Homo sapiens: one gene and its partners. The protein of the gene in region 1 interacts with the protein of each later gene in a biochemical or structural test. Each region holds a gene or a part of one and is shown on either strand. Other genes may lie near its edges. The genes, in order: SMURF2, SCN5A and TTC3.

What was found.
Region 2: the proteins of SMURF2 (region 1) and SCN5A interact in a surface display test, tested with the Homo sapiens proteins (one large-scale study listed by IntAct).
Region 3: of the proteins of SMURF2 (region 1) and TTC3, one has a biochemical effect on the other in vitro, tested with the Homo sapiens proteins (one study listed by BioGRID).

What each region holds. Positions count from the first base shown.
Region 1 is NC_000017.11:64,544,545-64,547,462, reverse strand, and holds part of SMURF2 (E3 ubiquitin-protein ligase SMURF2), read left to right. Parts: intron 1-1,124; coding exon 1,125-1,200; intron 1,201-1,515; coding exon 1,516-1,615; 3' UTR 1,616-2,918. UniProt on the Homo sapiens protein: E3 ubiquitin-protein ligase which accepts ubiquitin from an E2 ubiquitin-conjugating enzyme in the form of a thioester and then directly transfers the ubiquitin to targeted substrates.
Region 2 is NC_000003.12:38,597,688-38,601,342, forward strand, and holds part of SCN5A (sodium channel protein type 5 subunit alpha), read right to left. Parts: intron 1,364-3,655; coding exon 1,231-1,363; intron 281-1,230; coding exon 42-280; coding exon of another isoform or gene 1-41. UniProt on the Homo sapiens protein: Pore-forming subunit of Nav1.5, a voltage-gated sodium (Nav) channel that directly mediates the depolarizing phase of action potentials in excitable membranes.
Region 3 is NC_000021.9:37,195,128-37,198,782, forward strand, and holds part of TTC3 (E3 ubiquitin-protein ligase TTC3), read left to right. Parts: intron 1-547; coding exon 548-909; intron 910-2,442; coding exon 2,443-2,569; intron 2,570-2,754; coding exon 2,755-2,898; intron 2,899-3,655. UniProt on the Homo sapiens protein: E3 ubiquitin-protein ligase which catalyzes the formation of 'Lys-48'-polyubiquitin chains. Mediates the ubiquitination and subsequent degradation of phosphorylated Akt (AKT1, AKT2 and AKT3) in the nucleus.

The DNA of each region.
Region 1 (2,918 bases):
TACCTTCTTCTCCCTCCTTTCTTTTGTTCCCTTCCCAAGAGCCTTTTCTGCGGGCTTCTCTGATTGTAGTGAGTGCCGCATGCTAGAGACCGTACGTGGTGATGCTCTGCCTTTGTTTTCTGGTCACCTTACTTTTAATTCTGTTGCACATTCCTGTAGGGAAGTCGTTCACTTCCATGTTCACATCTTGACCTGGTGAAACGTTTACCTGCCTGGGATGCCTCTCCCCTCTACTTTTCGTTCTTTCTCTTATTAGACAGAAGCAGCATGGGTCATGGAAACCATCTGTTCGGTCAGAGCATTTTAATTACTGCATGGCATCAGACCATTTGTTTACAACCATATTCCTTTTTTAAGAATGGTTTTCTGTGGAATAAGCTGGTTAATTTTGGGAGGAGCTGGTAATATTGCTAATGATTGTGGTGCTTCACTGGGTGGCAGTTGCTTCCTTTACCTCTTAAGCACTTCATTTTCAAAGCTGCTGGTGATGAATAAGGACACACAAAGCGACACTGGTACATAATTCGACAGTGCTGCCCACAGCGCATGCGCTGAAATCCCTGGGGGGAGAGCGTGCTTTCAGCTGTGCTGCCCTTCTCTGTAAGGAGAGCTCCTCATCCTCACACTTCCCAGATGCATAAAGTGAAGTTGTATTTCTGCTACATGTATTTATATGGGGTGCCTGTGCGAACTGAAATGGATTCTATAGACGGCTCTTTTGCTGTCAGCCCAGTTTGAGTCATGAAATCTAAATTTGCATCAGGTCGTCATCTTTTTGAATGTGTGCCTATGTATTTTACCTTGGATTTGCCTGATTACTTTTCTTCTCATGCTTTTGGGATATTGACTTTCTATAAAAGATAGAAATTGAGAAAGGGATTTCAATCTTGAGTTTTTTCTCAAATGGAAATGTGAACCTATTACGGAATCTAAGCCTTATCCAAGGTTAATTCTGGCTCTTAAAACCCAGATGCTTTTCCTGCTGCCCTTTGGTAGTATGTGTGGATTCATTAGCATTCCCCTATCCCCAGATCCTGTGGTTAACTTACCAGTTTTATTCTTAAGATTTTGGAGACTAATGCACGCACCTGCAGTGATTTCATCCACATTTCCTTCATTTGCAGGTGCTGCAGGCCCGAGACTCTTTACCATACACCAGATTGATGCCTGCACTAACAACCTGCCGAAAGCCCACACTTGGTAAGGTATTTTTGTAGCTGTATTCCCCATTCCATGTACATAAGTGTTAGTTCCAAACAGATTTGACTTTTTATTTATTGTACTTACTAGTGTTAAATGGGCCTTTAAAGGGAATGATAAGCAACTTAAGTGATTTAAAAGTTAAGATTATTCGGAAATTGGTAGGAAAACCCAAAAGTGGTCATCTCTGTTTTAGAGAAATACCTTTTAGTTTTCTGTGTGACACAGAGTGATGTGGCTATACTGGTATACACTTGCTAGGCCAGTTTACTTATTTTGAATGAACTGTATAAAATTTGATTTGCTTATTCACAGCTTCAATCGAATAGACATTCCACCCTATGAAAGCTATGAAAAGCTATATGAAAAGCTGCTAACAGCCATTGAAGAAACATGTGGATTTGCTGTGGAATGACAAGCTTCAAGGATTTACCCAGGACTCTATTTATACAACCCTGACTGACAGCCTCCTTTCAGCAGAGTTTCAAAGAATATGCTGAAATACAGGAAAACACTCCCCCCCCCCCCCTTTTTTTTTTTTTTTTTACATTTTAGGACACTGTGAGGGGAAAGGACAATTTTGAAATTCCTTTTCAAGGAAAAAAAAGGTCTTTATGCTTTGCCATGAGGCCACATTCAGCTGCTATTTAAACTTAATATCTTGAACCTAAAGAATGCTGACTTTTCCTACATTTCCAGAGTTAGGCAGTATTCTACACTTAAAGACTACTACTATTTTTATAAAAGGTAATCTATTCAAATTTCTTCACAGATTTCAAGTCTCTCAAACATCAAGACAACTTCAGCAGTCGGTACAAGTCACATTTCATTTTGATTGAATACATGATCTTGAACAGCTCCTGTACTTGCTCTTTGTAAAAAAAAATAAAATTATTTTGAATTATTCTACCTTTGTAAACAATTGGCTAAAAGAATCATCTTTAAGAAATTAAGCCATTTACATGTTTGTGTTTTTCTATAGCAGAGCATTATATTTTGCATTATATGTTTCAACCTAGTCTAAGTGGGTCTTTTTTACATTTTTCAAGAACGGATTTCCTGGAATACAGCGATATAATTTTGGTTGTCAAATTCCTAATGCAACCATTTAGTCTAAACTTAGTCATTTATTTGTGACAATAAGATGTGTTCAGGGGCTCCCTGTTTTTAAGAGACTCTTTTAAAAAAAAAAAAACCTAATGTTTTTATCTTGAGTCAATATGATTAGGTATTTTGGATTTACTTTTAATCTTAAAATACTGCATTTTTATAGCTTCTCAGAGCATGTGGATGGGATGGGATTTTCGTTATTTTGCTGGGTCAGCTTATCTTTAATATATGGACTATTCCTATAAACCAAAGTCTCTGACAAGTGCACCTAATTTATATTGTATTTTAACTACAGTGTAAGTTTCCATTAACAAAACCATCCTAAAGCGTTAACTGCTCATAATTTTAATCAGCTACAGTTATGAAAAAGGAAGAATTTTGCTCTAAAGATTATTAATAAGCTTAGAAAATCCTGCTTTTACCTAACAGAATGAAGTGGGGTTGAGGGGCGGTAGTATGAACAGTGATTCTAACTCTATGGCGTAAATTACTTTGAAGAGTTCATTTTGGAAGTAAGGGAATCCCGCTTCCCTTGGTGTTGAAGATCTGCATCTGATTTTGAAACGTCCAGATTTAGCTTTCAAGGTGCGTGCATGTTGAATGATCCA
Region 2 (3,655 bases), on another chromosome or scaffold:
CCAGGATGCCCATTTGAGAGCCAGCTGCAGGCAGCCCTTACCAGGTTTCCGACCTGCAGCATCTCCTCGAATTCACTTGTCATGTTGTAGTGCTCCAGCGCCATGAAGAGTGTGTTGAGTACGATGCACATAGTGATGGTGAGGTCAGTAAACGGGTCCATGACCACCAACTTCACTCCCTGCTTGATGGACATCCACAGCGGGCAGCACTCCCAGATCAGGTAGCGCTGGGCGAGACGGTTCCAGCATGGTGGACACTTGTGGCGAGACTCCTCTAACTCTGAGGGGACAGCCAATGAGTTAGTTTGATTCTGTTGACTGAGTCATATGTAACTGGAATACCTTCCAGGAAAGATTTATGACTTGCTCTGGGAGATGACAGGGCTGCTAGGTGACAGCGGGACAGTGGGAGCAGGGAAGGCCAAGGGAGTGGGTGGCCTGTGTCCTGGCTCCTTAATCTGGAAATATGAGAGAAGAGGTCCATAGGGACAGGAAACAAAGATGGAGGTGGGGAAAATGGGGACAGGAGAGATTATCAGGACAAACGTACAACTGCTTAAGACAACAGTCCCACATAGACCTGGGGACACTCAGGGGAGGACAGGCTGAAAATGATGAGACAGTAATGGGGACATGCAAGTTCAGACACGAGGACACCTGGGACAGAATGGGCAGGGACAGATGTGGACATCTGGGATGTGTCAGGACAAATGGGAGAGGGGATGCCAAGGACAGGCTGGAAAAGATGAGAATACATCCGAGATAGGAGGGAACAAGATCAGGATGGGGGGTGCCCCATTCAGACTGGAAGGGATGTGGAGTTGCCTAGGGCAGGAATGGCTGGGAAAGATGTAGGATGCCTGGAATAGTCTGAAGTAGATATGGGAATAGCTAGAACAGGCATGGGTATGCTCAGGACAGGATGGTCCTAGATAGACATGGTTATGGTTGGGAGATGATGGAATGAGACTGACAAGCATCTGGGACAGGCCAGATGTGGGAGTATTTGGGAGAAACACAGGCATGGTGATACCCAGGAGAGAACAAGCTGAAACAGATGAAAAGACATGGAAGGACAGGCAAGGCTACACAGAACAGAGAAGGCTGGGACAGTGTGGGGATGTCTAAAGCAGGCCAAGACAAATGGGGGATGCCTGGGTCAGGCTGGGATAAAGATGAGGGTACCTGCAGCGGAAGTGGGGGGTGCTTAAATGACCTGGGGTTGCTGACCTTCCAGTGCGCTGGTGAGGACGCTGACTGCGCTGAGGGCCCGCTGCCGTGCTCCTGGCTCCTCGAAGCCATCTACACACGGAGCCTGGGAGGTCAGCATCTGGGGCCCGCCTGGCTCCTCCGATGGCGTGGTCTGAGTGCAATCAGGAGATTTGCGTCAGCCTGGGGAAAAGGGTCCTGCCCCCAGCTCCTGTCCTGCTGGACCTGGGGAGGCCGGTCCAGACTCAGGCTGGGGATGCCACAGGGATAGGATGAAGGTCTTGATGGGACACTGGATGCTGGGCTTCTCTGTTCCCAACTCCCTCCCAGTTAAGAACTCCCTCCACCCCTCCTCCCAATCACTGTCTCCTTCATTCTCCTTTCTTCTTCACTGCCTCTCATCAGCAGTGATTCCTGAGTGTGGTCAGGAAGCTACACATATCACAGGTCCTCCCTGAGCCTGATGCTGCCATACACATTAGTACATGCAAAAATGATCTGGGAGTCTTAACTGACCACAAGTTTCCTAGCGTCAAGAGCATAAAGAAGCTGAAAAAAAAATCTAACATGCTCTAAGATAATGCTAATAGCAGGATAAAGTACAATGCTTACATATGGCTGGTGGGGGGCTGTGTCTTTTGTGGAGGCAGTTAGGCTGGATTTACCAAGAAAATTTTAAATTGGCCCTCAAGTCCTCGTCTAGTAATCTAACTTCATAAATAATTACACATGTGCATCAAAAATACACATAAATGATGTTCATTGCAGCAGTGTTCCTAATACCATAAGAACAAAACACCAATCAATAGCAACCATATTCAAATCAATTATAGACACAGTCCAACTCTGGGCTCTGATAGACAACAAAGAGAACGAGGCAGTTCTTTGGATGCTCCCATGCGGACATCTCCAAGACAAACAGTTTGATGAAAAAACAAGAAAAAGATCTGGAAAATGCATACCAAATAATTAAAGTGGACATATCTGGGGAATGGGATTGTGGGGGAGGGGAAAAAGAGGGAGAAGTTCCCTTTTCACTTCATGTACTTCTGCACTGTGGGGTTTGTTTTCACCATGCATGCACCATTTTTATCAGTAAAAAACCCAGGCCTGGAAACAGCCCTGGTGAAGGGAGGTGGCAGGCAGGCATTCTCTAGGCTTACCTGGAGCCTCCCACAGAACCAAGGAGGGCCAATAAAGCCTTCACTTCAGCAGGGCCCTGCATGACCACGGCCCAGGTGCTGAGCTGTTCAGCATGCAATAGCAAGACTCTAATCTTCATAGGGCAGAGGGAAGATGGGCCTAGATTAGCCAGGGTAGAAGAAGCAGGGCATAGGGTGGATACCAAATAGATCTGGGCTCAAGTTAAGGACATCCCGGCCATTGGTAGGACTGCTCTGAAATGTTGCCTAGGGAGGTAGTGAGCTCCCAGTCATGGAAGTATTCAAGTGGAGGCACCTGAGAGGGCTGAGGTGGCTGGTGCAATGGTACTACCCTAGGTCCAACGCAACCATGAATTTGGCCAGCTTAACTCACAAGCAAGTTTTAAATTCTCCCAACTTCTCCCCTCCTTCTTTGCCATCTATGATAGTTTGGTTATCACTTGGCACATATGCACTCTCTTTCCCCTCCCACCGAGGGTGAATTAACTTCCCTGCCCTGGGCATGAATGACTTGCTTTGGACAACAGAATGTTAGTGGACATGCTGTGAACAGAAACCTCAACTGGGCTAGTGCTGTTTATCTTGCTCTTGTGCTCCAGGAATTCTCCATGAAAAGAGCTTCCCCAGATAGCTGTCACCTTTTCAGCCTAAGCCTCAGAACAAAGATGCAGAGCAGCCCTGAGCCTAACCCACAGCATGGAGCCCAGCCCAGCCAGCATGCCGTCTGGAGCAGGGCTTCCCAGCTAAGCCTAACCTACATGGGCCATGTTGTAGTTAACTTGCAGATAAGTGAGCATGAGAATAAAGGCTTGTTGCTAGAGATTGACTTCTGGGGTAGTTTGTTACACAGCATTATTATTATAATAGCTGACTAATACACCATCCTAGTCCAGGCAGTCATCTTCTCTTTCCCAAAACCACTGCAACAGCCTCCTAACTGGCTTCTTTTCTTCTTCTCATCCCTGTATTCTCTGCATAGTAGAAAGGGATTCCTTTAAAAAGTAAATCAGATAATGTCACTCCTCTGTTCAACAACTCCTCCCACCCTACTCCTCCCCATCTTACTCACACAGTATATCCAAACTTATCTATGGTCTAGAAGGCCCTGCACAGTCCAAATCCTAACTCATGAAATTCATTTTAATGTTTCACCACACCTGGCCCTGTTAGTCCCTCTCATCCCTTGGATGTGTCCTCCTCAGGGGCTTTGCACTTGCTATTCCCTCTGCCTGAACGCTGTTCCTCTGCATCTTTAGGGCTGGCTCCCTAAAATCATTTGCCTG
Region 3 (3,655 bases), on another chromosome or scaffold:
TGGATTTGCAGATTTGGATCTCAGGAAAATATTCTAGACTGCAAACTTTTAAAAAGATTTGGCCTCAGGCAGCTGCATGGGGAGGAGTGTCAGCACTGCAGGCGTGGACGGAGGCCTGAGAGCTGCCAGGAGAGCTGGCAGGGAAGAGGAGGCGGCCCCCTGGGATGGAGACAGCTCTGGGGAGTGTGGTGGCCATGATGTTCCATCTGTCAGCTACATGGTTTAGCTCAGAAGGGGAAAAGTGTAACCAGGTAGAGGCTGAAGGAGGGCCAGTAGGCAGGCAAAATGGTCTCATCTTACAGAGAAAATAGTGACTTATAGAGATAATTATTTAGAAGTCTGAGCCCTCCTACTCTTGTTCTAATAACTAACAAGTTATTGTCAAGAATTCTTTTAAAACGAAAATATTTAATTCATGGTATTCAGGTTTCCTGTGCACGGAGCCTCTGCGCTGCGTTACTGTATTTATTCATCGGCCTTTGTCCTTGGGCGTTTCATCCTTCAAGGGAAGCCCTAAGTGATCCATGGTGTGGTGTGTTCCTCACAGGTTCATCCCGAGTTACTCCCTGAGTCTTCAGGCGACGATGGCCAAGGGCTTGTGACTTCTGCAAGCGACGTGACTGGAAACCACGCAGCACTTCACAGGGATCCTAGTGTGTTCTCTGCTGGTGATTCCCCAGGGGAGGCTCCTTCTGCGCTGTTGCCAGGGCCACCCCCTGGTCAGCCTGAAGCCACTCAGCTGACAGGGCCAAAACGGGCTGGCCAGGCAGCTCTGTCAGAACGAAGCCCTGTGGCTGATCGGAAGCAGCCTGTTCCTCCAGGACGTGCTGCGCGTTCAAGCCAGTCTCCAAAAAAGCCGTTCAATAGTATTATTGAGCACCTGTCAGTGGTATTCCCATGTTACAACAGGTATGAACAGAAAATGTCTGTGACTGTGTTTAATACTTTATCGAACTGAGGTTTCCTGATTAGATAAAATCATGGCTAGTTAGGTGTTAACATGAAAAGGGTTGCATAATTGTTTTGCTCAGAAAGACAGTTGCTACATTTCTTTCTTTTTGTAAATATAGAGATAAGTATTTTCAAATAAATTGGTGGGTTTTTTCTTTCTTTTTTTTTTTTTTTTTGAGACAGAGTCTCACTCTGTTGCCTAGGCTGGAGTGCTGTGGCACAGTCTCGGCTCCCTGCAACCTCTCCCTCCCGAGTTCAAGCGATTCTCCTGCCTCAGCCTCCTGAGAAGCTGGGATTATAGGCATGCATGACTAAGCCTGGCTAATTTTTGTATTTTTAGTACAGGTGGGGTTTCACCATGTTGGCCAGGCTGGTCTCGAACTTCTGACCTCAAGTGATTCACCCGCCTTGGCCTCCCAAAGTGCTGGGGTTACAGGCATGAGACGCCACACCCAGCCTCAAATAAATTTTTTAATGTGCATATGTAAATTGAAAACATTGAGCACTGGGTAATATTCATCAGAACCCATGACAATTTGCTAAGATTTTGATGAGACCAATAGCACTGTCTAAAACTAGTGTTATAGTATCAATAAATGAACGCAAAACAATAATTTTGCATCATTTGGGGGGACAAAATTATATATAGCAAAGAAGGCAGCAGCAACTTAAACCTTGTTATATAAGACCTCTGATTTGTTAGAGTGTGAGGTTGAAGACTGGATGGAATTCCATAGTGAATGGGGCATGTGGACATGTTAACAAGGGGTCCTTGTGAATGTGGGAAAAAGCTGCCCTTACCTGAGTGAGCAAGAGCTGTAAATAGAGTTGGGATGATGGCAGGCTCTTCAGTAGCGTTTCTGCCTCCACCTCTGGTTTCCGCTGTTCAGGTTGTTACGAGGGGGACAGAGTTGCCTCTTGTCTCAGCTGTGAAAGATGATGAGGTAGAGGCGGTGTCTCTGAAGTGCAGCTCGGATCAAAGGACTCTATGCTCAGGAATGACCTTTGGCATGTGCCCTATTATTTCAGTTTCTGAGACAGTGTTAATTACAGGCTTCAAAATTGAAATTTGTAAACAATGGGGCAGTTAAAATATGATTAGCCAGCAGGCATGGTGGCTCACGCCAGGCCGAGGCAGGTGGATCACCTGAGGTCAGGAGTTCGGGACCAGCCTGACCAACATGGTGAAACCCCATCTCTTCTTAAAAAAAAATGGCAAAACTCGCTTGAACCTGAGAGGCAGAGGTTGCAGTGAGCAGGGATCGCGCCACTGCCCTCCAGCCTGGGCAACAGAGTGAGACACTGTCTCAAAAAAAAAAAAAAAGTTATGCTTTTTAGATAGTTATTGTTGTTATCAGTGGTCTTCAGATTAATTTTATGTGCATTTGTCTTTGTTTCTTTGGGTTGGGCTGTTGGATTAATATTGGCATGTAATATTTCTTAGCAGTAGAGAACTTTCTGTTGTCATTCATCACTCACTCTCCCTTTCAGCACTGAGCTTGCTGGTTTTATTAAAAAAGTGCGAAGCAAAAACAAGAACTCACTCTCAGGATTGAGTATTGATGAAATTGTCCAAAGAGTGACAGAACACATTCTAGATGAACAGAAAAAGAAAAAGGTATTTTATCTAGATGTTCCAGTTTATCCTTATTTATTTATAAAATATGAGAATTGTTAAAAAAAAAAAAAAGCTTCAAACCAAAACCTAGAGAGCAATGTACTAAAGACAGAAGATGGTCAAGTTGTTGGATAACTGGTTGCTTCCCTCTTGTCCCCTCCCCGCCACCCCTGTTATTTTCGCAGCCAAACCCAGGAAAGGACAAGAGGACTTATGAGCCCAGCTCTGCCACCCCCGTGACCAGGTCCTCCCAGGGCTCACCCTCGGTGGTTGTTGCACCATCACCCAAAACCAAGGGGCAGAAAGCAGAAGATGTCCCTGTGAGGATTGTATGTATAACTGTATAGTTTTGTTTTTTAATGAAAAACAAGAAGCAAACAAAATTTTTAATCCATGATTTAGCCCCATTCATTTCTAGACCTAATTTATTTGATCCCAACATTAGAAACTGAATTTCAATGTACTTGAATGTGTCCAGTTAGAGCAATCAGTGAATGGCCGAGGTCATGGTGTCTGCTGTGATACGTTTGGGCCCAGCATGGAGAGAAGCCCCTGCACATGAGTGACAAGGGCTCTGACCATCGTGGGGGATCTGAGCCTTCTCTCTCTTGCCCTTGTTTTGCTGCAGATGGTCAAGTACATGAACTTTGTACATCCAGTGTGGTATTTTGAACAGTTGGGGAAATCATTTTTGAATAATTTTCTTCTGTGTAACCATGGCTTTGGAATTACACAGATGTGTCAATGTGTCGTGTGGCCACACCCACCCCAAGATAGACCGTGATTGCCTGGAGAAGAGGGTTCTGTTTTTGCTTCATGATGGATGTTTGTAGTAACGAAGATATAAAAGCTGACTTACTGAAACTTCACCAGATTGTATGAGAAAGAAAAATATGTGTTCAAACTGGGACCTAATTTGATAACCATAGTTTGTTAAAATTAAAAGTATTAATTTTCAAATTACAAAGTATTACATACAATAGAAAATACAAATAAAAAGGGCATTTAAAAACCCGCCCTGTAATCAGTATTACCACTTTGGTATATATTTTTCTAAACTCTTGAATGCATGGATATGTGAATTAG